Homo sapiens: one gene and its partners. The protein of the gene in region 3 purifies or fractionates together with the protein of the main gene of each other region. This does not show direct contact. Each region holds a gene or a part of one and is shown on either strand. Other genes may lie near its edges. The genes, in order: UTRN, DTNA, ADRA1D and CTNNAL1.

What was found.
Region 1: the proteins of ADRA1D (region 3) and UTRN purify together in Homo sapiens (tandem affinity purification; 4 studies listed by BioGRID and IntAct, with this or other methods). This does not show direct contact.
Region 2: the proteins of ADRA1D (region 3) and DTNA purify together in Homo sapiens (tandem affinity purification; 4 studies listed by BioGRID and IntAct, with this or other methods). This does not show direct contact.
Region 4: the proteins of ADRA1D (region 3) and CTNNAL1 purify together in Homo sapiens (tandem affinity purification; 3 studies listed by IntAct, with this or other methods). This does not show direct contact.

The regions. Positions count from the first base shown.
Region 1 is NC_000006.12:144,455,916-144,463,615, forward strand, and holds part of UTRN (utrophin), read left to right. Parts: intron 1-2,854; coding exon 2,855-3,096; intron 3,097-3,258; coding exon 3,259-3,439; intron 3,440-5,281; coding exon 5,282-5,427; intron 5,428-6,738; coding exon 6,739-6,951; intron 6,952-7,700.
Region 2 is NC_000018.10:34,712,700-34,720,399, forward strand, and holds part of DTNA (dystrobrevin alpha), read left to right. Parts: intron 1-7,700. UniProt on the Homo sapiens protein: May be involved in the formation and stability of synapses as well as being involved in the clustering of nicotinic acetylcholine receptors.
Region 3 is NC_000020.11:4,239,118-4,246,817, reverse strand, and holds part of ADRA1D (alpha-1D adrenergic receptor), read left to right. Parts: intron 1-7,700. UniProt on the Homo sapiens protein: This alpha-adrenergic receptor mediates its effect through the influx of extracellular calcium.
Region 4 is NC_000009.12:109,002,800-109,010,499, reverse strand, and holds part of CTNNAL1 (alpha-catulin), read left to right. Parts: intron 1-3,693; exon of another isoform or gene 3,694-4,020; intron 4,021-6,317; exon of another isoform or gene 6,318-6,404; intron 6,405-6,651; exon of another isoform or gene 6,652-6,817; intron 6,818-7,700. UniProt on the Homo sapiens protein: May modulate the Rho pathway signaling by providing a scaffold for the Lbc Rho guanine nucleotide exchange factor (ARHGEF1).

The DNA of each region.
Region 1 (7,700 bases), on a different chromosome or scaffold from region 3:
AAAAGGCCAAAGGCAACACTGGAGAATAGTTGACATGGGGCTTTTGTCACCTAATGTATACTTGCCCAATTTCATAGGAAACCTTTTATAGTTTGTATTATCATGTTTTTTCAAGCATTGGTGGAATTAGAAATGCATTCATTAGAGGACCCTAATTCTTTTTTGTTTTAAAGATGCATCTATTAAAAAATTTTTTTTAGGACAACAGTGGGAAGCTGAGAAATGGGGGAGCTGAACTGGATAAAGTCTGTGTGTTCCAGTTCAGTTAGGGAGGCATGTCAAATTCTTCAGTAAAACCCATATTTGAATAATCACGTCACTGTTTTTCTGAAACCAGTTCCATCAAAAAGCCCACCATAGCCAATTCTGATAGGTCTTTCCTGCCTAATGCATTTTACATAAGTTTTGAGGTATCTCATAGAGCATAGAAACAATTTTAGAAAATAAAATAGCGTGAGGCTGGGCGCAGTGGCTCACACCTGTAATCCCAGAACTTTGGGAGGCCGAGGTGGGTGGGTCACGAGGTCAGGAGATCAACACCATCCTGGGCAACATGGTGAAACCTCGTCTCTACTAAAAATACAAAAATTAGCTGGGCATGGTGGCACATGCCTGTAATCTCAGTTACTCAGGAGGCTGAGGCAGGAGAATCGCTTGAACCAGGGAGTCGGAGGTTGCAGTGAGCTGAGATTGCACCACTACACTCCAGCCTGGTGACAGAGCAAGACTCTGTCTCAAAATAATAATAATAATAATAATAATAATAATAATAATAATAATAAATAAAATAGTGTGTTTCATTTGACTTTCATAGCTGATATACTTGGTTTTCTTCGTTTAGCTTATCTTGTTCCTAGAGCTCTTCATCTAGTAAAATACAGTAGAGTAGTTGGGCATCTGGATAATGTGGCTTTATGAATCAATGCCCATTGTGGTTGCCTAAGCATATAAGCCCAGGAAGTTTGGTGAAGGTCCTATGTTTTGTAAACGTTTCCCTTGATTCCAATAGTGATAGACTGAGAAGTGTAAAGTCAAGTGAGACTGAGTGGCAGGAATGTGTTCTATGTTCTCCCTTTTAGACAATTAATAAAGTGATCTTCTGTTGATTTTGCCTTTTGACTAGTCACCTTCTAAGAACTCTGTGTTTTATAGAAATAGAAAATTTTAAACTCTGGATCTCTGGGAGTAAAACAACTATTTTTAAAGACAATGTGCAGTTTTCCTTTTATAAGATGTAAATTGTGTTTGAATCATTACCGGGCATCACTGTAACCAGCAATATCTCAGGATTAGAGAAAGGGAGATTCAGATGTTTAAAATTGGTTTAAAGAGGCAAAATGAATGGCTTGTAAGACATTGTCAGTGAAAAAATAACTGAAGTTGTTTTAACCGCCCTTGTTCTTGAAGTGAGCACCTCTTTCCAGTTTTCTAGATGAGTAGTGGTAATTTTCCATCTCAGAAATTTTATTTACCTACTTAATTTTCTTCCTTGATTAGTATGAATTGTCCAACATAAAGATGATGTGGCTGGTGTTACTATTCCTTTGCCTGCCTAGAATAGAAATGATGGGGCAGGGGCATGACCCATATCTCCATTGTTCATATTGTTAGGAAAATGGTGATTTGTTTTGTATACTCTCCCCATTAACAGGGGTAATGCAGCATGGCTTGTGGTGTGAATGCTTTGCTTATGTCTCATATTCTCTTACCTGAGAGATGGTGGTGAACAGTGAACTTCTGCAATTGACATAGGTGACACATTCAAATGACAGCATGATATGCCCTCATTTATGATTTTCAGTAGACACAGTGTATTATAAAAATTTTCAAAGTTGCATTGTCTGTGGATCATACATGACTTTTTGTTTTTATGCCTTTGTTTTTTAGTTCAAGCTCTCATTATCCTGGATTTTGATCATATATGTTTATAAAGCAGGATTGTTTTATTGCTTTCCTACTCAATAAAAATGTGAAGCCATCCTTTTGGTATGCATGTTTTCCTCCGAATAGAAAGATTCCTTTGAAGATTTCCCATACTTTTTCATAGTCATTTTAGAGGATTTGAAGGTATTTTAGATTAAGGGAAGGACTATGATAAAACCTATTATTATATATGACTTTATTATTTTTAGGAACATTCTCTACTTTTCAAAAATATCGGACAAATAAAATGATAAGATTTCAGTAATAAAAATGGTGGCATTGTTTTCCCTGATGTGTTTCTAAAGTAGATCATCTTATTGCTGCCTCAGTCTTTTGGTATTTGCTTATTTATGTGCAAGGTCTCCAGTGGGCTTGCTGATGCTTCTAGAGCCTGGCTGCTGGCTTAATATTCCTGCACTCACCAGGTTGCTTCCCAGCATAAGGCATCCTCGCCATTCATTTTTTAATTTATATGACACTGTGCTTTGGTCACCAAGACCTGAGCTGCCTCCTAGTTTTTCTAGCCAGCTTTCTTTTTTTCTTAGGACAAAGGGTCTTCTTTCTGAAGTCGGGCCTAGACAGATCAAGGTAGTTGATCTTATTTCACTGGTTCAGGTGATAAACTAGCAGAGTAGAAGCATGGCATGGATGGAAACATATATTATCTAGAAAAGGCAGTGGCTGAAGTTCTACTGATGTGCCTGAATCGTTATTTTAAAATGTCTTTCTTCTTTGTTCAAGGAATTGAAATAAACATCATTATTTTTAAGTGCATCATTATAAATTTTTGTTGTTGTATTAAAAGGGACTTAAGAAAGTGATCATTATGTGTGACATTGCCTCACTATTCTGAGTGTTAGAATGTTCAGAATAAATTCAAGACACATTTTGTAATATATAGACTGTTTGCTTGTTTTTCATGTCTGCATAGAAGGCCTTCCTACTGAAGAAATAAAAAATGTTCTGGAGAAGGTTTCATCAGAATGGAAGAATGTATCTCAACATTTGGAAGATCTAGAAAGAAAGATTCAGCTACAGGAAGATATAAATGCTTATTTCAAGCAGCTTGATGAGCTTGAAAAGGTCATCAAGACAAAGGAGGAGTGGGTAAAACACACTTCCATTTCTGAATCTTCCCGGCAGTCCTTGCCAAGCTTGAAGGATTCCTGTCAGGTAAGGAGCCAACGGTCTGGAAAGTGGAGGAATTCTATGTGCAGTTCCAGAGTTAAGGAGGGCTTCTCGTATCATGAACTTTAAGTTAATGCTGCCCTGATTAACTTCCTGTGAGGATGTTCATCTTCAGTGAGTTGTGTGACCGTATTTTCTCTTCCTTAGCGGGAATTGACAAATCTTCTTGGCCTTCACCCCAAAATTGAAATGGCTCGTGCAAGCTGCTCGGCCCTGATGTCTCAGCCTTCTGCCCCAGATTTTGTCCAGCGGGGCTTCGATAGCTTTCTGGGCCGCTACCAAGCTGTACAAGAGGCTGTAGAGGATCGTCAACAACATCTAGAGAATGGTAAACCCAACAATTTTAAAATCTCCTGTCTCAGTTTGCCTTAATGTAAACATGACTCCCAACATTTAGAACTTGAGTACACTTGCTTGCTTTGCACCAACCTTCTCCATTTTCCTTTGTGCCTGTATTGTTCAAAGTCTTAAAGTCTTCTGTATTCAGATTCTTTTCCAGATTCACACCTTTTTGTAAACATACAAGCAAGTTTCACATTCTCTAAAATTGTGTCAGTAGGATATAATAATAATTTTTTTTTTTGTAGCTACAGGATCTCACTCTGTCACCCAGGCTGGAGAGCAGTGGTGCAATCATAGCTGCAGTCTTGACCTCCTGGGTTTCAGTGGTCCTTCTGCCTCAGCCTACTGAGTAGCTGGGACTACAGGCATGCACCACCATGCCTGGCTGGTTTTTTATTTTTAGTAGAGCCAGGGTCTAGCTATGTTGCCCACGCTGGTCTAGAACTCCTGGGCTCAAGTGATCTTCCCACCTCAGCCTCCCAAAATAACAGGTGTAAGCCATTATAACAGGTGATATAACAGCCTCCCAAAATAACAGGTGTTAGGCAAAATAACAGATGTTAGCCTCCCAAAATACCAGGGATAACAGGTGTCAGCCATTGTACCTGACCTGGATATAATGATTTTTAAAGATTTTTTTTTTTTTTTTTTTTGAGAAACAGGTGCAATTTCTTCCTTTGGTTGAGGAGGCCACTTAATATCATTGCTAGGAGGATCAAAATGAATGATCCCTTACTTCTGTTTCCTCAAAATAGTTAAAGTTTTGGCAGTCTCATACTGTCTTTTAAAAGAAATCATATTCCACTGTCAGATTCAGAAAAATTTTAGAGTTCTTACTTTTGGAATACACTTGGTTTTGGAAGGTTCACTGTTAAAGATTTTGAAAGCTCATCCCTCCTACGTTACACTATTTACTTCCTAGCTGCCATTTGAGTTAGGAACTGTGTTGCATTGTGCATTATTTTGTGAAATGCATTGAGCATTGTGTGAAATGCTCCACATGTAACCCAGCCTAACTTCAGCAATTGTAGATTGTGTGATGACTGGAAGTGTCTGTATGTGTGCATGCTAGGCAAATGTGTCGTATTGCCTTTCTTCTGAAAGTGCATCTGGACAGCATGTCTTTGTTCCTTGAATTCAGTTATGTGAAATATGTCTTTGAGGGTACCTCTTTCTCCACTTATTGGTACAAGCTGTGCTTTCACTTTTGACAAGGATCAGTAGGCAGTTTAACTTTTGCTGCTAGTTGGTTTCACCTCTTTGTGCTTCAAGAGAACTCACTTCCTTTCCACGCAAGTGTTACTTCTGTGATATTTTTACATTAGTGACTGAGGTAGACACTGTTCCAGCTGGCTGTTCAGTCATTATTTCTCAGGGTACCTGGGCAGCATGGTGGCAGTATTTCCATATAATCTCCTCCACTCTGGACCTGGGTTTGTCTACACGGTGGAGCTTACAGCAAGACTGGTTGAAGGGATCTTTGTTTTCTTTTATTCTTTGTGTAGCTGTTAAGGAAGAGGAGATTATATGGAACAAAAGGGACATTGTTGTTCCATCTTCAGAGAGACATTTCATCATGAAGAAATGAAGAAAAATTATAGTGGGTTAGTTAATATTTCAAACGTCAACATCCGCAGGAATGAAGTCACTGTCTGACTCTCAGAAATGCCAATGGAATGATCTATGTTGTTAATTAACAGAGACCCTTTTACATTTTAATCATGGGGTCTCCTTTGCCATGTATTGGAATTCATTTAGGATAATGGTCTATGTAATAATATTGGTTCCTAATATGATTTTTTCAAACTAAATATTTTTAAATAAACAGAACTGAAGGGCCAACCTGGACATGCATATCTGGAAACATTGAAAACACTGAAAGATGTGCTAAATGATTCAGAAAATAAGGCCCAGGTGTCTCTGAATGTCCTTAATGATCTTGCCAAGGTGGAGAAGGCCCTGCAAGAAAAAAAGGTAACATATATCTTCCATGTTAGAACTCTAGCGCTTCTTCTAATATCTCCTCTTACATATTTTGAAATGTTTTTTCAGAGATTAAAAAAAAAGTTGGTCAGTTTTGTTCATCATTGGTGCAAAAATGTGTTTATGATTTGAGGGTTAGTTTGACCTCACATAAAAGAAAGTACAGTTATTAAAAATTTTTTCATAGAAGAAAAGCATATTTTCTCCTTCTGCTGTGATTAGCTTAAAATTCTCAACCTGTTCATAAAATCTGCTAAAATATCTTTATGAAATGAGGACTATCAGTTGACGTGTTGATGTATACTTTTTTCTGCATCGAATAGGAATGTTTCCGAGGTCATTTAGTTGAGTAGCCTTATGGCTCTGTGCTATTAGATGAAAAGGAGAGCAGCCATTGAGCACTGCACACTTGGCCCACACTGGGTTTGCTGTTCCCTTGGTTTTTAGGGTTGAGAATACACTGTATTGCCCACACACAACTCATGAAGAAAAAGCTTTAATTTTTATGATTATGCCTATTTTTTTCATGAGTTTTTCATGTTTTGTTTTGTTTTGTTTTTTGATTTCCAACTTTTATTTTAAGTTCAGGGGTACTTGTGCAGGATGTGCAGGTTTGTTAAATGGGTAAACGTGTGTCATGGTAGTTTGCTGCACTACGTATTAAGCCCAGCATCCATTAGCTCTTCTTCCTGATGCTTTCCCTCCCACCATGCCCCACCCTCCAACAGACCCCAGTGTGTGTTTTTCCCCACCATGTGTCCGTATGTTCTCATTATTCAGCTCCCACTTATAAGTGAGAATATGCGGTATTTTTTTTTGTTGTTTCTGAATTAGTTTGCCGAGGATAATGGCTTCCAGCTCCATCCATATACCTGCAAAGGACATGATCTTGTTCCTTTTTATGGCTGCATAGTATTCCATGGTTGATATGTACCACATTTTCTTTAAGTAGTCTATCATTGATGGGCATTTGGGTTGATTCCTTGTCCTTGCTATTGTGAATTGTGCTGCAATGAACATAGTGTGCATATATCTTTATAACAGAATGATTTGTATTCCTTTGGGTATATACCCAGTGAGATTGCTGGGTCAAATGGCATTTCTGGTTTTAGGTCTTTGAGGAATCACCACACTGTCTTCCACAGTGGTTGAACTAATTCACACTCCCACCCACTGTTCTTTTTAGATAAAAATGCTTTCTAATGCATTTTAAAGTGACTTTTGACTTTATATAGCCCATTTTACTATATCTGTGCAGACACATTTTTGTGCATATTTTTAATCTTTTAAAACTTTTTCCAGACCCTTGATGAAATCCTTGAGAATCAGAAACCTGCATTACATAAACTTGCAGAAGAAACAAAGGCTCTGGAGAAAAATGTTCATCCTGATGTAGAAAAATTATATAAGCAAGAATTTGATGATGTGCAAGGAAAGTGGAACAAGCTAAAGGTCTTGGTTTCCAAAGATCTACATTTGCTTGAGGAAATTGCTCTCACACTCAGAGCTTTTGAGGTAAATCCAGAGGCCACTGGGAGTTTAAGTTTATTACGGGGTAAATAGTAATTATCTTATAAGATTCACGTATTTATTATTTAAATATTTTACATTCTTTCTAGATCCCCATTTATTATGTATTTAAGTTGGGACTTATCAAAGATGTACTTTTAATGTGCTAGAGAGCACATTTATTTCCTTTTGCCTGGAAGCAAAGTCAAAAGTAGAGTAAACTGGACCTTGAAGATAAGAGAAAATTGCTTAAAAATGGTCAAAATAATGTTTCAGGCATGGAGGGCCTGTGTGAAATACAGACTGTTGATTAGATTATAGTAGTAACTTGGTTGGGGTGGTAGAAATAGCCCAGGTAGTAGTAAATTGCTGAATACATGAAACTACTTTTTGCAGGTTTTTGACATTTGAAGTCAAAAGTCAGAGATAGGCCATTGACAGTGTCAGAGTGGGAAGGCAAATCGTTCCAGGGACATGAAAATTCAGAAACAGGATCCTTCACTACACCTGAAAATGTTGACAGATGCAGCAGTGATAAAGTTTAAGAGGAAAGGATAAATGTGAGGATGTATAAGGAGAGAGTCAATGTCAATAGAAGTCAGTGTCAGATTTTAACATTCTGCCTGTGAGAAAGATGGAGAAGCAGAGTTTCCAGGTCACCTGGTATTTTAATAGGAAAGTTCTGGGTGGAGAATGAACCAATCACACTCTCTCCCTGCAAGGCTTCCTATCCTCCAGTGACTCCTTACCTTGGT
Region 2 (7,700 bases), on a different chromosome or scaffold from region 3:
TCAACTCTTGTTTAAATTATGCTTTCTTGTTAATTTTGAATAATTTGTAGTGTTTGTTAACATTTTAGCTTTAATCTCTAGAGCTGCCTAGAGTCATAGACCAATAGATAATTATCTGCAAACATTTACCTCTACTAAGGAGACAGATATTTAACAGTTTTTTAACATGTTAAAAAACAACCATATTGAGTAAAATAGTATAGCCTCTGCTAAAAAATTAATGATATTTAAATTCCAAGAAAATATTTCTAAAATAGATGAAGATCAAGCCAATGAATGATGACTCAATATCATCTAGATACTCCATTTTTAGGAGTTATTTTTTAACCTCCGATTTTATTAAGGTGAATTTTATTATTGACCACTATGTAATTTTTGACATGAAAAGAATTGGATTTTTTTTTTAGAAATCTAAGACTTTTCAAATGAAAAAGAAAGTAATGGTACCATGATCATGATGATAATGATAACGACAATAATGATTAATTTGGAGAATAAGATAGATTAGAAAGCTCTTGCCTCTTTGTGTAGTAAAAGGCCAATGCTCTTAGAAGGAAAGTGGAAATTACTAATGGGTAGTATGATTCTCAGAAATTAACCCTCAAATTTAATTAATTATGTTAATAGCATTTATAAGTCACTAGGAATAGAGGTGCTTGGTATGTTATTATCAGACTTTATTATAAAATATCTTGGTTTTGTTCAATAAGCGATAGAGGCTGTCATCAAAAATGATTAAACTTAGATATGCAGCGTTATTTCTGAGGGCTCTGTTCTGTTCCATTGATCTATATCTCTGTTTTGGTACCAGTACCATGCTGTTTTGGTTACTGTAGCCTTGTAGTATAGTTTGAAGTCAGGTAGTGTGATGCCTCCAGCTTTGTTCTTTTGGCTTAGGATTGACTTGGCGATGCGGGCTCTTTTTTGGTTCCATATGAACTTTAAAGTAGTTTTTTCCAATTCTGTGAAGAAAGGCATTGGTAGCTTGATGGGGATGGCATTGAATCTGTAAATTACCTTGGGCAGTATGGCCATTTCCACGATATTGATTCTTCCTACCCATGAGCATGGAATGTTTGTATCCTCTTTTATTTCCTTGAGCAGTGGTTTGTAGTTCTCCTTGAAGAGGTCCTTCACATCCCTTGTAAGTTGGATTCCTAGGTATTTTATTCTCTTTGAAGCAATTGTGAATGGGAGTTCACTCATGATTTGGCTCTCTGTCTGTTGTTGGTGTATAAGAATGCTGATCTTTGACAAACCTGAGAAAAACAAGCAATGGGGAAAGGATTCCCTATTTAATAAATGGTGCTGGGAAAACTGGCTAGCCATATGTAGAAAGCTGAAACTGGATCCCTTCCTTACACCTTATACAAAAATCAATTCAAGATGGATTAAAGACTTAAACGTTAGACCTAACACCATAAAAACCCTAGAAGAAAACCTAGGCATTGCCATTCAGGACATAGGCATGGGCAAGGACTTCATGTCTAAAACACCAAAAGCAATGGCAACAAAAGACAAAATTGACAAATGGGATCTAATTAAACTAAAGAGCTTCTCCACAGCAAAAGAAACTACCATCAGAGTGAACAGGCAACCTACAAAATGGGAGAAAATTTTCGCAACCTACTCATCTGACAAAGGGCTAATATCCAGAATCTACAATGAACTCAAACAAATTTACAAGAAAAAAAACAAACAACCCCATCAAAAAGTGGGCAAAGGACATGAACAGACACTTCTCAAAAGAAGACATTTATGCAGCCAAAAAACACATGAAAAAATGCTCACCATCACTGGCCATCAGAGAAATGCAAATCAAAACCACAATGAGATACCATCTCACACCAGTTAGAATGGCAATCATTAAAAAGTCAGGAAACAACAGGTGCTGGAGAGGATGTGGAGAAATAGGAACACTTTTACACTGTTGGTGGGACTGTAAACTAGTTCAACCATTGTGGAAGTCAGTGTGGCGATTCCTCAGGGATCTAGAACTAGAAATACCATTTGACCCAGCCACCCATAAATCATGCTGCTATAAAGACACATGCACACGTATGTTTATTGTGGCATTATTCACGATAGCAAAGACTTGGAACCAAGCCAAACGTCCAACAATGATAGACTGGATTAAGAAAATGTGGCACATACACACCATGGAATACTATGCAGCCATAAAAAATAATGAGTTCATGTCCTTTGTAGGGACATGGATGAAACTGGAAATCATCACTCTCAGTAAACTATCGCAAGAACAAAAAACCAAACACCGCATATTCTCACTCATAGGTGGGAATTGAACAATGAGATCACATGGACACAGGAAGGGGAATATCACACTCTGGGGACTGTTGTGGGATGGGGGGAGGGGGGAGGGATAGCATTGGGAGATATACCTAATGCTAGATGACGAGTTAGTGGGTGCAGCACACCAGCATGGCACATGTATACATATGTAACTAACCTGCACAATGTGCACATGTACCCTAAAACTTAAAGTATAATAATAAAAAATAGAAAAAAAAATGATTAAACTTATCAAGAATTGTACAATGTGTGGGTCAGTATCTGACAGGAAAAATGCAAACTCATTTCTAGGAAAGAACAATTAGTTATATTTTTAGTATATAAAGGGGCAATTAACTGGTCTTCACTTCATGGTATTATTAGCTGGATATTTTAGAGTGGTATTACTATAATAATTCCCCACTCTCAAACACACATGTTATGAAATGTTCACTAGACACCATTTCAATATTTTAATTGTTTTTAATTTTTTAATTATTTATTTTAAATAAACAATATTTTATATCTGAAACCTGTTAATTTTGATTTGTTTGGTGGAACATTTACTCAGAAAAATTACTTACCTCTACACATCCCTGACATGAAAGAAAATACTGGATGGATTGGCAATTCCAGTATAAAATATGGATCTATGAAAGTAGTGAAAGAAAATATAGAACTTATGATAGAAAAGGATGACCTCAAAGACAAAAATCATAAAGGAATGGTAATATGAAAACTTACTCCTTCTAGAATATGTTATATACAAAATTAAAAAGATAAATGGCAAATTAGAAACAACATTTGCAACATATATGAAAGAGAAAAAGTGAATATCCATGTTATGTAATGAGGTCTCATAAATCTGTAAGAAAAAGCACTTCCCTTTTAATTTTAAAAATATCTACAAATTAAACACATGTCATTTTAATAATTAGCAACTATTTTTTAAAGGGGAAAGCAAAAGGAGGAAGGGGGAGATAATGTCTGGTTTAGGAAAAGTCTGGAAAATGGGAACACATATACACTGCTATCATATAGCAGTGTACACTGGGTGCAGGTGGGGAGTTGATCAAGCTGGCAATGTGTAGCAAAGTCTTTAAAAATTGCATATCCTTGGGCCCTACAGTTCTACTACTAGGAATATGTCCTAACAAAATAAATAGTCTAACGTATTTACATAGTTTTTCGTTGTTTCAGACAATAGCAGTCTGAAAAAGAAAATCCAAGAAATATAGAAAACACATGAGCTCGTATTTCCTCTCTAGAAGCTATAAAGCTGTAAGAAGTCGGCCGGGCACCGTGGCTCACACCTGTTATCCCAACACTTTGGGAGGCCGAGGCGGGTGGATCGCCTGAGATCAGGAGTTGGAGACCAGCCTGGCCAACGTAGTGAAACCCCATCTGTCCTAAAAATACAAAAAATTAGCTGGGCGTGGTGGCAGGCGCCTGTAATCCCAGCTACTTGTGAGGCTGAGGCAAGAGAATCGCTTGAACCCAGGAGGCGGAGGTTGCAGTGAGCCGAGATCACACCATTGTACTCCGGCCTGGGCAACAAGAGTGAAACTCCATCTCAATTAAAAGAAAGAAAGAAAAAAAGCTGCAAGAAGTCATAGACATGGCTATATGCTGGTCTAACTGTTGACTTCCCAACTCTTTAGATGGAACATGTATAGGCAACATGGTGTAGAAAAAGAGTCTTGGCTTAAGAATTGGAATGCCTGAATCATGCTACTAACTAGCTGAGTTAATATAAATATGCAAATTTATGAAATTATTAAAATAATAATGTTAAAGAGTAGAAAAGTCTGTGAATCCCTTTACCCATGTATATGTGTTTGTCTTCACCGCTGATTTGCAAATAAGAAGTCTCATATCAAGTGGGAAGGGTAGATTTTTATAATTTCACTGAAATTCAATACCAAATGGTAAAATCTGGAATGCCTTGACTGTGAGAGAAAATAACAAAATATTTTAAATAGGGTATACATTCCAATTATTAGTTTTTGAAATTTATTCTAAAGAAATTTCTGCTCATATAAGGATGGGCAGAGGATAACTGGGCTTGAATAACTGGGCCACACCTACATTTAGGTGTGGTGGAGAGGCAGAGCTCCAGAGCAATCTGTTCAAAATTCTGTGATGCTGGAAATGCTCTATATCTTCTTAGTCCAATATAGTAACTACTAGCCACATGTGGCTATTAAACACTTGAAAGGTAGCTAGTGCGACTGATGAAACAGATTTCAAATCTTATTTAATGCTAAGTAATTGAAATAGCCACGTGTGTCTAGTGCTATCTTAATAGACAGTGACACTCTAGAATTAAGCACAACAAATAGGGTCTTTTATTTAATATCGGAGGTTAATTTCAAGCACCTCTGCTAAATTCGGATGATATAGATAGGACAAGAAGGTGAGTATTCTTTGTGCAATTTCCCTTTTATCTACAGAAATACAGATCAATGAAATCCTTTGATTCTAGTGACTGCAAGTCCAAGATTTTCCAGAGAAGTGTTGGTCTCAAGTAGTCTGTAGTTTTGTTTGCTTAAGAATTTTAATGCTCATTCATTTTCTCATTTATTTTTTTTAAAAAACCTTATATTGAATATATTTGTGTTGGACACTGACATTGAAAAGATAGTAGTAGTGCAGAGTTCCTTGATTCAGGAAATCCTTGGAGTATCCTAAGGAGTAAATGGTGCAGAGCAGATATTACAGAGGAGGGGAGAGAAAATGCTGTGTGGAGAAGGAAGCACTGGGATAAACCTTAAAGAAATGGCCAGTGTTCAATAGGAAGCTGGGGAAAGGAGGATCTTGAGAAACAGAACAGTATGGGAAAACCAGGGAGAGATGAGAATCAGAAATGTCTGGAAATGTAATAATGGCAGCAGCACAGAAAATAGACTAGTGTGTAGACAGAAATGAGTCCAGAAGTTAATGTTACAATCCAGAACAAGTATGAGGGAGGTTATGAGCTAAGGGGATGAAAGTAGAATTTAAAAAGAGTAGATTTGAGAGGTGTTTTGTCTGTTGCTTCTCTTTACAATAAGTCAGGTAGAGAACAACTGATTTATCTTTTAAGCCCCCTTGAAAATTGTCGATTACTGCATACAATGCTGGAGCAGGATTTTTGTGGCCAAGGAAACTGAGCGTATCTTACAATATGCAAGTTTTTCAAACAGGACCAACTTACATAAATCATCCTCTTGGAAGTAGGCGCAACTACATCATGTATGTAGTTGAAATGTATGACACATGACAATTTTGTTTGGGGATGTAATGTAACTGAGGTGGAAACTTAATATTTATGAGACTTCCTCTTTCGTTAAAATCTTAACATTCTTTGATTTTGACAAATAGTGTTTTTATTTCTTCCAAAAATACAAGAATTTTAAAAGTATATAATTAGGCATCGTTTAGAAAGGTCAAAAAAGCAATCGTCTGTTGAATTTATGATTTGGGTACATTATTCTTCTCCAGTCTTTACCCCATTTTGATGGACTTTTTTCTCTTGGCAGTATATCCAGGTTCATTTATAGGTGGGAAGACAGTAGAAGCTGTTATTCCAGCATCAAAGCCCCCACTGTTTTCTAATAAGACGTTAGGTTTTATTTCTTCCAAAGCCTTATGATCACTGCAGTCAAAAAAAGAAGGGTGGAAAATGCAGAAAAATGGTGGAGGAGGTGGAGTATGGTCTTGGTCATAAAGAAATGAAAGGAGAAAGGTATTACTGAAGAGTATGGGCATTAGTCTGACTGTAAGGAGGACTTTGGCAGTAACTACAAGCCAGAGTGAGTGAGGAAAGAATAGCAGCCATTTGGGCAATGTGCTGACCATGTGTGGCTTGATACTAGGAAACCTGAACATACAGCAGGACAGAGAGGAGCACATCATGTGAGAGTTCCATGAGTTCTCGGATTTAAGAAAATAGAAGACTTTCTAAGTGCCAGATACTGTTCTAAGTACTTTTTGTTTAACCTATTTAAGGCAATTAACCCTTTTTTTTTGGAGAACAGTCATAGAACATGGAAATCACTGAAGAAATGTAAGTAGTGGTGGGATGCAGTGGCTCACGTCTGTAATCCCAGTACTTTGGGAGGCTAAGGTGGGTGGATCACCTGAGGTCAGGAGTTCAAGACCAGTCTGGCACCAACATGGCGAAACCCCGTCTCTACTAAAAATACAAAAACAAAACAAAAACTAGCCAGGCATGGTGGTGTGGGTCTACTGTAGTCCCAGCTACTCAGGAGGCTGAGGCAGGAGAATCACTTGAACCAGGGAGGTGAAGGTTGCAGTGACCCCAGATCGCACCACTGCATTCTAGCCTGGGTGACAGAGTGAGACTTCATCTCAAAAAATAAAAAAATAAAAAAATAAGTAGTTATTATCTCTCCATCAATCCTCACAACAACCCTATGAGCAGGGTACTTTTACCATCTTTATTTTACAGATGAAGAAATTAAGGCCCGAGAGGTTAAGTAATCCCCCAAACAGCATACAGTTAATCAGAGAGAGCTCTATTTAATCAGCTCAACTACTACGCCATCCTGCCTACTCTTAATCTATGTTAATTTTATAATATGTACAGAGATGATACTTGTAACGTGCTCACAAAGTGCCTGACATATAGTAAACCTGCAAAAATGTTAGCAATTATCATTATGTAATAAGATTTAGAAGACTTTCCGGTATTTATGTCATTCTACACCGACACTGCTCAGAAATAGTAACAAGATTTTTAGGGCAGCTCTGGATTTTTCTTATGTAAAGTGTAAAGAAAGCTTTGTTTAGGAGCATGCCCTTATAAATTGGAGAAACTCTTCTTCTACCCAAATACTGTCAATCAGTTTGACTGGCACAGTTGAAGTTTTTACCTCAAAGAATGGGCCTCATTGAAATGTTCTATATACTCATCTACATGGCTCTGACCTTCTGACAGAGAATGACTGCTGCTAATGGTACTAATAAGAGCAAATGGAATTCCCTTCCAAGCTTGGTATTTGAATAATATGTCAATTTGTTCATTGCCGTCTTACTAGGAATTAAATGCGCTAATATTTTTATAACCTAAGGGAGCTAGTGCGAGGTTGGCAGCCAGAAAAGGGAATCAGGCCAGAGGCTGGCCAAGGCATAGTCATGAGGGGGTGGAAGGGTCACAAAGTCAAAGTCAAGCAGGTGGACCCAGGCAGAACCCAACCAGACTCTAGAACAAAGTTAGGTTCAAAGTTTGGTTCTTATCTCCTTTCCCTATAATGTGGGCTGGTAGGGGTGGGTTGATTGTCATCCTCTGTACAAAAAGAATTGTATGGAAAATTAGCTGGCTCTGAAATCTAACTGAAATAAGAAAGTCAATAAAAGCATAATTAAAGATACTTAAACATTGTAGATACAGGCAATGAAAGAACAAT
Region 3 (7,700 bases):
TATAAATTAGATGTGTCACTCTCCTATTAAAAGCCCTCAATGCTTTCCCACTGTCCTGAGAACAAAATCCAAACTCTCTATCATCACCTATGAGAGGGTGACCTTCAAATATATTATTGTCCGAACCAAAATAGGACACTATGAATATTTACACTGGGACCACAGGCTGGAACTGGGGCCATGCAGACATGTGGTCCCCCTTCCTACAATGGAGATCTCAAATGAGAGCCATCTCCCTCTCTGCCCTCCCCCTCTCTGCCGTCACGGTCTTGCCGCTTCCCTCTGCTCTGGGCTCCTCCCCTCTGACCCTTTCTGGTTTCTTGCTGGAGCCCCTGCCTGTCCTCAGGCCTTTGCACTTGCTATTCTCTCCGACTTCGCTGTCCTTCCCAATCTCTCCTGGCCAACTCTATCCTTTAGGTCTTGGCTTAAATGTTCCCTCTTCAGAGGGACCTTCTTGGACCCATGACCCTCAGTGGTGTCCTTGTTTTCTCCCTTGAAGCACAAGGTTCGCTTCCTTCACTAGATCATTGGTTGTAATTACATCTGTGTGCTGCTTGTTTTGTTTCTGGGACTGGCCCAGAAGCTGTGTGAGGGCAGGGCTGTGTCACCTGGGTCATCACTGAGTCCACGGCACTCAGCATGGGCCTGGTATGTGGGGAGCAAAAGAGAGCACTGCAGTGAGGATCACAGGCTCTGGCGCCAATCCCAGCTCTGCCTCCCTCCCGCTAGCTGCGTAACCGTGGGCAAATCCCTTAACCCCTCTCTGCTGGCTTTTTTATCTATAAAATAGAGATGGGGTGATGGTAATCATGCCTATCTATAGGGCCATCGTGGAACTGTAGCTTTTGTAGTGGATACTCAATATAGGGTAAGGAATGAATAAGTAACCCTTGAAAATCATCCAGCCAAAGGTTGTTGCAGGGATGGGGCAAGCAACGGACCCTAAGCAACACACTAGGAGAAGCAGGCAAGTAAGCAGGGAAGAGAAAGTTGGTGCCCGCCCCTTTAGACATCCAAGCCCATCCCCCAGGCCCATCGCCCCAGCCCCTGCTCCAGCCTTGCCCAGCTGTGCTGGGCTCCTGGGTGCCCTCATTCAACCCCTGCCCCTCGGTTCACACTGGGCCCCTGTAGGGAACGCCCAACCTGTGTAGAATGCCAGCTCCCTGTTTTTTTTTCCTTTTAACTTCCTTTAAAATTTTAGCTTAATGCACAAATAAGGAGAAAACAATAAAACAAGCACCCACATGCCTGTAATCACCTATACTGAACAGATGTTAACATTTTGCCATATTTGCCTCAGACCCCTTCCTCTCTCTTTTCAAATAAATAGAACAAGCCATAACTAGATCCCCTCCTCCTGTCCCTTCCTCTTTCTCTCCCTGCCTCGCCAGAGATAAATCTGGAGTATATCACTCTTATACAGATGTTCATACTCTTACTACAAACATCTGTATCCATAATAATATACTGTTTTGTTTGTCTTTGAGATTTATATGAATGGCACCTTGCCATGCGTATCACCGTTCTTCAATTTGCCATTTCACCCAACATTATGTGGCTGAGATTTATCCATGCTGGGCCATTTTCACAGCAGTACATTTGAGAGTATTCCACAGTGCGTTGATCCTGCTGAATGTTAGGTTTTTCTAACTCTTCCTTGTTCCAATCAACACTGCAAAAGGCCACTGCTTTCTTTGAGGTCCACGTCACGTGACTCCCTCTTCCAGGAAGTCATCCCTTAATTTCCATGACCTTTGCTCCTTGCTGGCACGCACAGCTCTTTCTCAATCCTTACATTTCTGCTGCGCCTCACATGTGGTGTAGGGAATTGGGGGGTGGAGGAGGCCCTAAATCCTCCTTCCTAATGGTCTGTGCTGCACCAGGCTTCTCAGGGCACCTTTCCGAGTGCCTCAGAGCAGAGCCCAGGGACACTGGTGGAGCTGAATTGAGTTGAATCTGGCAATGATGAGCAAACAGGACAGAGGCCAAACAAGGAAACAAAATATTCCGATCTGCCCCAGTATGGCTTGGAGGGCAGAAGCAGCAGAGAGGGAGGGCAGAGCCCATTTGGAGCAGGAGGGGTCTGGAGGCTGTGCAGGAAGGAGAGGGGGCCAGGAGGTCCTGACACCCCCAGCATGAGGCCCAGGCCTGGGAGGAGGGAGATACCTTTGAAGGAACAGGGAACACTGAGCAGCAACTTTTGGGGGGAATGTGGACCCCCAGGGGCTGGTATATGTTGGTGTGGAGGTACCAGGTGTGTGGTAGGGGATAGAGAACATTGGAAACTTGGATGCAGGGATCAAAGATGGGGATGGTTGCAGGAGCATGGAGTGCAGTCTCCCAGAAAGAGGAGGAGAGAGAAAAGAGGATCTCAGGACAGAGCTTTGGGGAGCATTGACGTTGAAAGACCCAAAGGAGGCAGAAAAAGAGGCAGCCAGGAGGAGCAGGATGGCTGTTGAGGTGGCACCTGCCTCCTCCCAGGTCCTGGTCACCACACTAGCTGTGACGAGCACCAGAGACGGAGAGATTGAGAAACAATGTATATGCCAGCAAGGAATGGGCCCACATAGGCCCTGGAAGTAAAGGCACCCAGTAGGGCCACAGCAGACCTGGGGTGCCCTCACTCACACTTCCGCACACAAAGCCAGGTGGTAGCAGCAGCCACAGCGGCCTGGAGGGCATCAAGAGTCTCAGGGAAGGGCCCGGAGTTCCAGAGGAACATTGGCACTGTGAGCCATGGGCTGTCACCTGTAAACCTGGAATGCTGTGGTCAGGCCAGAGGGGCAGCACCACAGGAGGGCTGTCCTGAACTGTGGGGGCATCTAAGGACCCAAGTCACTGGCTGGGAGACACTGGGACACAGATGTGGGCACCTAAAATCCAGAGAATCCCAGAGAGTAGCTGGGGATCATCCCCTACACTTCCAGCTGCCCCGCTTTCCCTGTGAGGAACAACTGCAGAGCATGTCCCCAAGGCAGGCAGAGGGTCAACCAGCTCATTAGACCGCAAGTGCCCCGATGCTGCGATTTCAGGGAGCAAGGCTGGGGAGGGCAGCACCAGCTCCTCTGGGACCCCCAGGAAGCTGCTGGTGCCAGAGGTGCGGAGGTGCGTGTAGAACGCCCCTCACCGAGAGAGAGGGGAGGGCACCCTCCTGCCCACGTTCCGTGGTGATGCCCAGTTGAGCTGCCTGCTCCGTGCATAGTGACCCAGGACAGTCCCGTTCCTTGCCTGTGACCGGTGGGATAGCTAGTAGTGCTCCCCTTTCAGTCAGAGATGCTCCACTTTGGAGATAGAACGTAGTGACACCAATCCCTGGGGCCTGTGAAGGAAGTGCTCTTGGCAGCCCCGCCCATGCCAGGTACAATCCCCTACCCTCACCGCAGCAAGCTGGTGCGGGCTGGGTGCCACGGAAAATCACAGGGAATTGTCTAAATCTGCCCTCCTCATCGGGATCCTTCAGCCGGATGCCCCGAGGAGCCCAGACTTGTAGAGTGAGTGTGGGAGGGGCCGCAGTGAGAGCCTGCTGCCTGCGGACTTCCAGAGAGGACCCAGAGAGAGGGGGCGTGGCTGCGGCGGGGCTGCGTCGTTGGGACAGTTGGGTAGGTTGGAAAAGTCCCTGATAAAAGCCTCTGAAGCCTCTGCGCTGAGAAGCTTCGTGCAAGAATCCCCTGACCCTAGAGGTCTAGGCCAATTGTGTAGAATGCAGATCATCCTCCCTGCGGGTGTGAGGGGTACCGGAGGGGCTGGGGAAACCCTGCCCCAGGCAAGCACCCAACTGCAGAGAAGCTTCCTCCTCTCCCGGGAGCCTCCAGAGGCCCGTGTCCCTCCTGCGTGTTTTCATGGCGGCAGCATCTCACTGCGTTTGGGTTTGGGCTGCCTGGTAAGTGTCCCCCAGCCACGCCCAGAGGTGGACTGTCTGCCGAGACCTACATACACACACAAACACACACACACACACAACAGCCCCACCCCTGTCACTCCTAGTGACCACTCACAGCTCCCAGGCTTTCGATCCCAGCTCTCTCTTGTTGGGCAGATCACCGAGCATCACTGACCTCCACCTTCCAAATGCCATCCACTCAAAGCAGCCCGGAGACTCAGAGCCCAGGGCCCCCCTCAAATGCACCTCAAGGCATACAAGCTGGGCAGAGGCTCTGATATCAGAAGTCCCAGGACAGCCCAGCCAATGTCCCACTCCAGCCATCTGTGAGCCACACCTGAGCCTCTCTCCTATCTTGTGAGTCTGTGCTCTGTGATAGTGCCTGTGTCGCTGACCACCCCCAGACTTAGATGTCCCATGTGCTTCTGAAACACTCTGCATGTACTTTTATCACGATGCACTGTAACTGTCAATATTCAGATATGCATCATGAAGTGTGAGGGCAAAGGGAACTACACACACGTAGGCACAGGAGTAGCAGTATTGCTGGGTTGCTCTGTGGTTTGGGAGACGTAAAACGTGTAGCCTATGAGAAGAGGGGTCAAGAGATGAGGCCAGATGCCATCTGCAGGAGAATGGATAAATAAACCATGTATCCATAGACTGGACCACGGTACAAGGAAAAATAGCAAACTACTGATGCACACATGGATGAATTTCATGGATGTTATACTGCGCAAAATAAGCCAGGTCTGAAACTCAAGGTGTACACACCTTTTGATTCTGTGTAGATGAAGTTCAAAAACAGGGGAAACTTATCAATGGTGATAAAATCCAGGATAGCGGTTACCCATCTGTGTGTGTGCAGTGAGTGTACTAACTGGAAGAGAATGCTAGAAAACTTTCTGAAGGGCTGGGACAGTTCCATACCTTGACCTGGGTAGTGATGACATTGGTGCATGCATATGCAGAGCCATCAGGCTGTGCTGTGTGCTTCAGATACACACGCTTTCTAAATTTGACTGTCTACATGTTATGCCTTTGTTACAGTGAGAGAGAAGGCAGGAGGAGGCAGGGGGGAGGCTGTGAGCCCTGCTTAGTAATTGGTGTCCAGGCTGGAAGGCATACTTTGGTGGCCCCGTGCGGAGAGTGGATTATGCATATGTCTGAGAGTCGGCCAGGTGCTAAAGGACTCATCTCCACAGGCTGCCTGAGGTTGTGCAGGGGTCTGTGGATGAAGGGGAGAGGCAAGGGATGCTTTGTGCTAGGTCTTCAGTAATGGCATCATTGTCTCCCGGCCCAAAAGCCTGAAGAAAGGGCTGGCATTACATCTCCTACCTGTGCTTTGTGGCACCTGGAACATAATAGGTGCTCAGTAAATGTGTGCAGAAGAAGGAAACGGTAGAACCCATGTTCTATTCCCATCCTGCCACACCAAGGGTCTGGGTGGCAAAGCACAGCCCTCCATTTATTTATTATTTTAATTTTCTTTTATTGTGGCAAGAGCATATAGCATGAGCTCTACCCTCTTAACACACTTTTAAGTGTAAATATCATATCATTAACTACATATCATTAACTATGGATACATATCATGTGATACTGTTGCACATCAGACCCCTAGAACTCATCTATCTTGCCAAACTGAAACTTTATGCCCATTGATTAGCAATTCCCAATTTCCTAGCGCCCTTTCTCCCTGGAAACCACCATCCCACTCTTTGAGTCTACGCATTTGAGTATTTTAGAGACCCCCATGTAAGTGGAATCATGCAGTATTTCTCCTTCTGTGACTGGCTTATTTCGCTTAGCATAACAGCCCTCTATTTAAAGTCAACTCTCTTTACTTGTTGTGGGTTGGGGGTGAGTCCCCATTTTTGTGGCCTAAAAAAAAAATCTTTAACAGGACAGTTAATATTTATTGAGTAATTACTATGAATAAGCAATGAGCTAGGGTTGGGTTTTTTTCATGTTTTTAACATGGAAAGTTTCAAACACATACATTGATAGAGAGAACCCTGTTAGTATAATGAACCCCTGTGTACCTGTGACCCAGCTTCACCCCAAAGCTAACCTAGATTCTTTCCATCCTCACCCACTGTCCCATCACTGTAGATTCTTTTGGATTTTTGTTTGTTTGTTTTTTGAGATGGAGTCTCTCTGTCTCCCAGTCTGGAGTGCAGTGGCGCAATCTCAGCTTACCGCAACCTCCACCTCCCGGGTTCAAGTGATTCTCGTGCCTCAACCTCCCAAGAAGCTGGGATTATAGGTGTGCACCACCATGCCCAGCTAATTTTTGTATTTTTAGTAGAGACGGGGTTTCACCATGTTGGTCAGGCTGATATCAAACTCCTGACCTCAGGTGATCCACCCACCTCGGCCTCCCAAAGTGCTGGGATTACAGGCATGAACCACTGCACCCGGCCACTGTAGATTATTTTGAAGAACATCCAGATACAGTATCCCTTCATCTGTAAATCCTTCAATATATAGTTCTAGAAGATAATAACTGTAAAAAAAAAAAAAAAAAGCCCACAATCCATTATAACACATAAAATCATTTAATATCATCAAATATCTACTTAGTGTTGAAATGTTGCTGGCTGCCTCGTAAATTTTTGGTTGGTTTGTTTGAAGCAGAATCCACAGAAGGAGCACACGTTGCATATGGTCGATTTGCCTATTAGGTTTCTTTACTCGGTAAGCCTCCACTGCTTTTTTTTCTTTCCATTTATTTAGTGAAGACACCAGATTGTCCCCAGGTGTATCCTGTAGTTTGGAGTTTGCATCTCCACAGTGCCATTTAATGTGTCCCTCTGTTCCCTGTACTTCCTGGGTGCAGATTTGGCCTGGAAAGAATTCTTCTTTTCTGTGGTGTCAAGATTGACCAGAATTCATGTGCTGTCAGCCTGCTCTGTCCATTACAAAGTGACCCATCGGCCTTTCACCTGCTGGTTTTGGCAGCCATTGACCATGGCCTGGACCCATTATATCACTGGGGCTTGAAGTGGGGATATTCTAATCCTATCATACCTCCTTCATTTATTCACTAGCATTCTAAAATGATTTCACCACTAGCTGTTTGGTTAAATAGAATCTGTACAGCAAAGGCAGGGAAGATGTTCAATATTCCTCTTTATTTATCAGAGGAAGAGTCAGTTCTCTAGCATTCTTTCCAGACGTGACCACTGAGGCTGTTTGAGTACCATGGTAATGTCATTATTTTTAGACATCCTTGCTGTTCCAACACATCACAGACATCATTGTTTTGGGCTTGGCCAGTGGGTACTCCTTCCAGTTGGCTTCTGAGATCTTTGGCAGAACCTGGAGCATCTTGAGCTCTTCTTTGCTTTCTGATCTGATAAGATGCTTCAGGCTCAGCTTGCATTTTTTCTGCCCTAGACCTGGAATTAGCCATTTCCCTAAAGAGCCCTAGTCTGTTTCAATGGAAGATGACTGAGCTGTTCATTGATACTGAGTTGGTCACTGATTCAATGGACAGATCTAGGAAGTACATTTTATTTTCAGTAGAAGAAAAACACAACACTGATGGGGACTTCTGTCCTTGGACATATATTCCTCCTTCCCCTCCCCTGAAGATCTTGTCCTCTGCCCAGCTCCTGCTGATATGTTTGTCCCAAACATCTGAGGAACTGTTGATCACCCTGCTCCATTCATTAAAGATCTGGGCATCAGAATCACACTGTTTTTTCCTCACTCCCACCCCTACCCTGGTCATCAGTGTGACTCCACTGTACTGAGGCTGACCCATGATGACACTCTGGCCTTGAGACTACAATGACCTTCCCCTCCTCCCCTC
Region 4 (7,700 bases), on a different chromosome or scaffold from region 3:
ACAGTCAAATTTAAAATAAACATTTCCTTTAAAGCCAGAAACCAGAGTGGGGTGCCTGCTATGCTTCTACTCAGCACTGCACTGGAAATTCTAGCCAGTGTAATATGACAAGGAGAAGAAATAAAAGGAATAAATATAGGAAAGGAAAAACCAAAAGTCTCAGTGTGATATAATAACCTATGCAGAAAACTCAAAACAGTCTACAAGTAAATTATAAAAATTAGGAGTGTTGGCAAGTTCACTGAGTGTAGGATACTAAAATCAATTGCATTTTTCTACATTGATAACAAACAAGGCACAGGCGCACTGGCTGGTGCCTGTAATCCCAGCTACTCTAGTCTCAGCTATTCAGGAGGCTAAAAAATGGGAGGATGGCTTGAGCCCAGCAGCTGAGGGCTGCAGTTAGCTGTGATCACGCCACTGTGCTCCAGCCTGGCCAACAAGGACCCTGTCTTTAAAAAATAATAAAAAAAAATAGAAAAAGTAATTATTAAAAAAATCCAGTTATATTAACAGTAACAGCAAAATATGAGCTTCCTAAGAATATGTTGCTTTTGCTATGTATATAAAGAGAAAGAGCTCTATCTCTATGTATACACAGCAAAAGTGGTCAAACTTCATGGAGAAAATTTAAAAATTTTATCAAAAGCCAACATGGATCTAAATAAATGGGAGAAAAGTACTGTGTTCAAGCCTAGGTTGACATATTATAGACATATCAGTTATCCCTATTGGTCAATTTAATGCAATTTCCATGAAAATTTCAGCAAGATTTTTCAGTAGAACTTGATAAAAGTAATTCTGAAGTTTATATGAAAGCACAAAGGGCCAAGATTAGGCAGAAGAGAAACAAGGTGGATGGACTTGCTCTGCCAGATTTCAAGACTCATTATAAAACTATAGTAATTAAGACAATGTGGGTATCAGAACAGGGTTGAAAAACATAGACCTGTGATACAGAATAGAAAACCCTAGAACAGATCCACACATATATGGAAACTCGGTAAATGACAATTGGCATTGCTGGTCAGTGGGGAAAGGAAGAACTTAAAAAAAATTAAGCTGGGACAATTGGATATCTAAATAGAAATTATGAAATTGGATCTCTGTCTCATACCAGTAAAAAGTCAACTTCAGATGGATTAAAGACAATATGAAAGTAAAAGCTCACAACACTTTTAGAAAAAAAAAAATAGGGCAGTATCTTCATTACCTTATGCTGGGAAAGGATTTGTTAGTATACCACAAGTATAAACCTTAAGAAAAAAATGGATAAATTCGACTTCTTTAAAATGAAGAACCTAGGCCAGGCGCAGTGGCTCACACCTGTAGTCCCAGCTCTTTGGGAGGCTGAGGTAGGTAGATCATTTGAGTCCAGGATTTTGAGACCAGCCTGGGCAACATGGTGAAACCCCGTCTCTACAAAAAATACAAAAAATTAGTCGGGTGTGATGGCATGCACCTGTGGTCCCAGGTACTCTAGAGGCTGAGGTGGGAGGATTGCTTGAGCTGGGGAGGTTAAGCCTGCTGTGAGCTGTGATCACAACACTTCACTCAGCCTGGGTGACAGAGTGACAGAATGAGACCCTGTCTCAAAAAAAAAAAAAAAAAAAAAAAAAAAAAGAACCTCTGTTCATCAAAAGGAAAACGTAAGTCATTAAGTGGGAGAATATGATTCCAACACAAATAACCAACAAATGATTTGTAGTACCTAGAATAAATAAAATACTCCAATGAATAAAAAATAAAAAGATTAGCCATTAAAAATTGGTCAAAAAATAATTTCACAGAAGAGGAAACAGCTAAAAGATATAGGAAAAGATATTCAACTTCATTAGAACTCAATGAACTACAAGCTAAAAAATCCACAGTGAGAATAAGTGTTGGTGAGGAACGTGGAGATGGTAGCAATATCCGTGTTACAACCATTTTGAAAATGGTTTGTTGTAATCTATTATAATTGAAGGTGGGCATTACCTGTGGCCCAGCAATTCCACTCCTAAGTCAGTACCCCTAGAGAAACTCCTACACACCTATTAGAAAAGTGGATTGGGGCTGGGCGTGGTGGCTCACGCCTGTAATCCCAGCACTTTGGGAGGCTGAGGTGGGTGGATCACCTGAGGTCGGGAGTTTGAGACCTGCCTGACCAACCCCGTCTCTACTAAAAATACAAAAGTTAGCTGGCGTGGTGGTGCATGCCTGTAATTCCAGCTACTTGGGAGGCTGGGGCAGAAGAATTGCTTGAACCTGGGAGTCAGAGGTTGCAGTGAGCCGAGATTGTGCCACTGCACTCCAGCCTGGTAACAGAGTGAGACTCTGTCTCAAAAAAAAAAAAAAAAAAAAAAAAGAAAGATGGATTGGAATGTGGATAGCATTTTTACTTCTGATGGCCCAAAACTGGAAACTTCCCAAATGTCTTTTAACAGTAGTATGTTTACATAAATTGTGCTATGTTCATATAATGATATACTCTGTCACTGAAATGAATAAACCACAGCTATAATTATCAATGGGGATGAATCTCAAAAACATAATGTTGAGTGAAAAAAAATAAAGGTTCAATACCAGATAAAACTAAACCAGATATCATTTAGGGTATACTGTATGTACAATAGTTATAATAAAGGAGTGGTGAACACAAAATTGGGACAATGGTTTCTTTTGGGACAAGAGAGTGATATGGACAAGGAGTAGCCAGATAGTACATGGGCTGTCAGAGATACTGACATTGTTCTCTTAAGCTTGGTGGTGGCTGCACAGGTCTTTCTTTCATTTCTTTAAACTCCACACATATATGTTATATATACTCATATGTTTTATATTTTATAATTCAGACATTTTCTTGAAAAGCCCTGGGCTAAGAACCAAGCATATTTTATGTAGAGTACCTCCCCACCTCCTTTAATAATCACTTTATTCTTCCTGTCAGAACTCCCACTCCAAGTCTTATAATGCTTTTATCCAAGGAAGGGAAGAAGGATATCTGCCACAGAACTCCACCCTGGTGTGGAATATTATTCTACTGCCCACTAGTCTTTTCCTGTCTATGATAGATTTCCTTTATTCACTATTTGTACAGACCCCTTAAATTTCTAAGGTAGCCTACCTCATTTTCCCATTACTCTCTGCATTGTTCTGGAAGCTTTTCAGGATTCTTGTTGCAGTTATGTTGTCGATGAAGAGAGTAGATAAGGCGCCCTCTCTGCTCTTTGCTGATTTGTGTATGTGAATACATGCGTGTTTTTTTTTCTTTTTTTTCTTTTTTGTGATGGAGTCTCGCTCTGTCACCCAGGCTGGAGTGCAATGGCGGGATCTCGGCTCACTGCAACCTCCACCTCCTGGGTTCAAGCAATTCCCCCACCTCTGCCTCCCAAGTAGTTGGGATTACAGGCACCCAGGCACCTTACATCAAGCCCGGCTAATTTTTTGTTTGTTTGTTTTTTTGTAGAGATGGAGTTTCACCATGTTGGCCAGGCTGGTCTTGAACTCCTGACCTCAGGTGATCCACCAGCCTTGGCCTCCCAAAGTGCTGGGATTACAGGTGTGATCTGCCACGCCTGGCTGATGGGTACAATTATTATTTCCATTTTCACAGGTGAGAACACAGAGTCACAGAAAGGTCAGATAGCTTGCCACATGGTCACATGGCAGAGCCAGAATTCAAAACCAGGCAGAATGATGTCCATGCCCTTAACTGCTGGGATATTCTTTGGTGTTTTGCACTTCTTGACACCCTTTGTTAGAAGCTATCAAGTAAACCCTAATTCTTATTCTTTTATTCCACAGCAGAGTTCTTTAGTACACCAGATCTTCTTTCTTCCCCAAGGGATGCCTTTTCTGCCCTCTTCTCTGGTTCATTTAGGTGTTCTCTAGACTCTGGTGTCAGGGCAACTCCAAGTTATGACTCTCAATTTAATATCATTCCTATTTTTGCAGAACTATAGTTAAGATTGTATTTGGCATATTATGATTTACAAAGCACTCTTGCTAGTTGTCTTTTCCTTGATCCTTAACATAATCCTGGAAGGTAAGAGAGACGGTGTAGTGATTAAGAGTGTAGGTAGCTCCCCTGGCTTTGTGACCTCGGGCAAATACTTAACTTCTTCAAATTTCAGATTTTGTATCTGTAAAATTAGGGTAATAATAGTATGTACCTATTAGATGCTGGAGAAGCAAGCATTAAAAGAATTGATACATGTAAAACACATAGGCTAGTGCCTGGTACTGTTGTGCTTAACAAATGTTAGCTAGTCTTATTTTTTATATGATAAGGAAAGTGAAGTTTAATCTCAATTTTGTAAAACTGTGTATTTAAGTATCTATATGTACAAAACAAGACTGGAAAGAATTATGCCAGAATTCTCAGAGGTTAGTAGGATTATGGGTAATTTTTATTTCTTGAGGCTCTCCTATATTTTCCATTTCTGTTTATAAACAATAAACATGTATAACTTTTGAACCTACCTTTTAAAACATTTGAAACTAATTTTAGAATATAAGTAGACCTTAAATAAAGAATGTTACATATTGACTTAGTTCCTCTAAATAAAATTTTAAAGGCATACTATATTTGGATTGAACATTTCCTAGACTGCTTTCCAGTGAAAGGAAGGCAGCCACACCTAATTATGCACTGGGGAAGGCGCTTCTAGTGAAAGCAAAATGTGTCTTTTGGAACGGAACAATAGTTCATATTTTGGCTTAATTGCAGGATCTTTTCTTTGTAATTGAAATTTTAAAACTTTATGTAAATGAAATATTTAATAAACAGAATCACCTTAATCTGTTCGGATTGCTATAAAAAATAGACTGGGTGCCTTAAACAACAGAAATTTATGCCTCACAGTTATGTAGGCTGGGTAGTCTAGGATCAGGGTTCAGGCAGATTCAGTATCCAGTGAGGGTCCACATTCTGGTTCATGGACAGCTGTCTTCTCACTGTTCTCTCAGGGTGGAAATGAGTGAGAGAGCTTTCTGAGGCCTCTTTTAAAAGGCATTAATCCCATTCATGAGAGCTCCTCCCCCATGAACTAATCGTCTCCCAAAGGCCCCACCTCCTAATACCATCACATTGGGGGTTAGGATTTTAACATAAGGATTTGTGGAGGGGGAGTGGGAGGGGGAATGGGACACAAACATTCAATCTATAGCAAGAACTTAAACTCCTTTCCACTGCAGTCTCTTCCAAGATGGTAGCTTGGAATAGTCAATGCTGAGCAAGTTCTCTTTTTTTTTTCATGTGATAGTAACAATTCCCTAGAGTCTGTCAGGTGTGGAAAAGGATTAAGCTGGTGCCAGTAGGATTTGTTCTGTGCTTCCCAGCAGCATGGCCCACAGTCATTCTCCAAATTAAAATTATCGTGACTCTTTCACATGATTATGTAATGAGCTTTTAGGTAACATTTCAATTAAAAAAAATAGGAAAGATTGTAAACCTCCAGTAAAAGAAGGACTATTAGGTGGGATTTGGTGTCAGTTTAAACCTGGGTTCAAATTCTAAACTAGGCTACTTATTAGTTGTATGAGCCAAGTATGCAATTTTACTCAGCCTCAGTTTTTTAATCTTTAATAATACCTGAGGATTAAGTAAGATAGCTAATTATAGTATGTCTTTGAACACTTACAATAAACTGTTTATGGTACTATGTTAAACATAATGCTTTCATTATTTTATTAACTCTTCTTATTTATTTATTTATTTATTTATTTTTTTCAAGACAGAGTCTCGCTCTGTCACCCGGGCTGGAGTGCAATGCCATGATTTCAGCTCACTGCAACCTCTGCCTCCCAGGTTCAAGCAATTCTCCTGCCTCAGCCTCCTGAGTAGCTGGGATTATAGGTGCACACCACCATGCCCGGCTAATTTTTGTACTTCTAGTAGAGATGGGATTTCACCATGTTGGCCAAGCTGGTCTCAAATTCCTGACCTCGTGATCCGCCCACCTTGGCCTCCCAAAGTGCTGGGATTACAAGTGTGAGCCACTGCGCCCAGCCAACTCTTCTTACTAACATTATAAGTCAGAGAAGGCAATATGGCTAAGTGGCTAAGAGGCTAGTCTCTGCAGTCAGAATATCTGGATTTAAATCCTAACTCTCCCATACTTCTTGATGTCCAACTTCCTCATTTGTAAAATAGGGATGATTATTACCCCCATTTTCCAATTTGGGGAAATGAGGATGATTAATATTAACCTATTTCACTGGATTGTTGTACGACATTATAGGGTAATGTTTAGGAGTACGGTCTCTAGAATTGAAATGTCTGACTCTGAATCCTAACTCTAGCACTTATTAGCTGTGTGACCTTAAATAAGCACCTTTGAGCATCAGTTTCCTTAGGCTCATGATGTGAGCCTTCCCACTTGGCCGGTGAAGTGTCTTCATGACATGGGAATTGTCTTTCCCTAGGGTGAACCGAGAGAAAGAAAGATGAAAACCACAGTGACTTTATGACTTGCCCTCAAAAGTAGCATACTGTCACTACTGTTTTATTCTATTAGTTAGAAATAAGTAGCTAAGTTCAGCCTGTACTCAAGGAGAGGGGAATGAGACTTCACCTATTTAAGGGAGGAATAGCAAATAATTTGTGGACATATTTTAGAACTACCTACAGTCTAACCTCTGCACACAAATTGTTTACCTTATTCTCACCTGCAAGTAACCTCTTCCCATCCATATCCTCTCCAAAGTCACAACATCAGCTGGAAATCCATGATGTTGGCATCTATTACAAATATGATCCAGGAGAGACTTCTTGTATGTAGTAGTTCCTTAAGTGTAACGTCTTTCAGCTTTAGGATGACTACTATAGACTCTTCTGTTCAAAAAATGAGAAAATAGAAAGTATAGAATAACTGCTATACAGTCCTGTTCAAAAATGGAAAAAAAATAGGAGCCACTGGTTTATGGTATTCTGAACTCCTCCTGGGCAAATGTTGCCAGTTCCTTGATTAAGACTCAAGTCCTGGGAATAGTTCATGGCTCTTGATTCTGCCCTCTAAGTCATTATTTTACATGAATTGTAGCTCATGTTTGCAGCTGCGTAGATTTCTCAGCCTGTTCCCTGCTTATGGAAGTTTGGAGCAGGGGCTGGTATGAAAGCTTCTTTTCATACAAAGATGTATTCCCTTTTAGTCCAAGCTGATAGTGTTTCTGCCAATACGATTATCTTAAAAATTTTGTTGGTCTCCTGTGAGTCATATTGAATTCATTCTACTAGACAAAAGCCCACACCCACAAGTCTCTTTGATATATGCTCTTCTTTAACTTGGGCTTCTCCTGGGACTGCTGAGGAATAATATCTTTAGGCTTCTTGGGAGATCTGTTGTTTACCTGAATGGTTGTCTGAAGCAACACCTTGGACCTTTCTGAGATCTTAAGATTTTATAGTCGTACCCTTAGCTTCATCTTTAGATGCTTTCTTGACACAGCCCTAGATTTTATTTTTGCCTGGAAGCCATTGTTAATTTTAGTATGATGTGCCATCTGGAGAAGATTTTTTTTTTTGAGATGGAGTTTTGCTCTTGTTGCCCAGGCTGGAGTGCAATGGCACGATCTTGGCTTACTGCAATCTCTACCTCCCAGATTCAAGCGATTCTCTTGCCTCAGCCTCTCGAGAAGCTGGGATTACAGCCATGCACCACCATACCTGGCTAACTTTTTTCTTTTTTTTTTTTTTAGTGGAGATGGGGTTTCTCCAT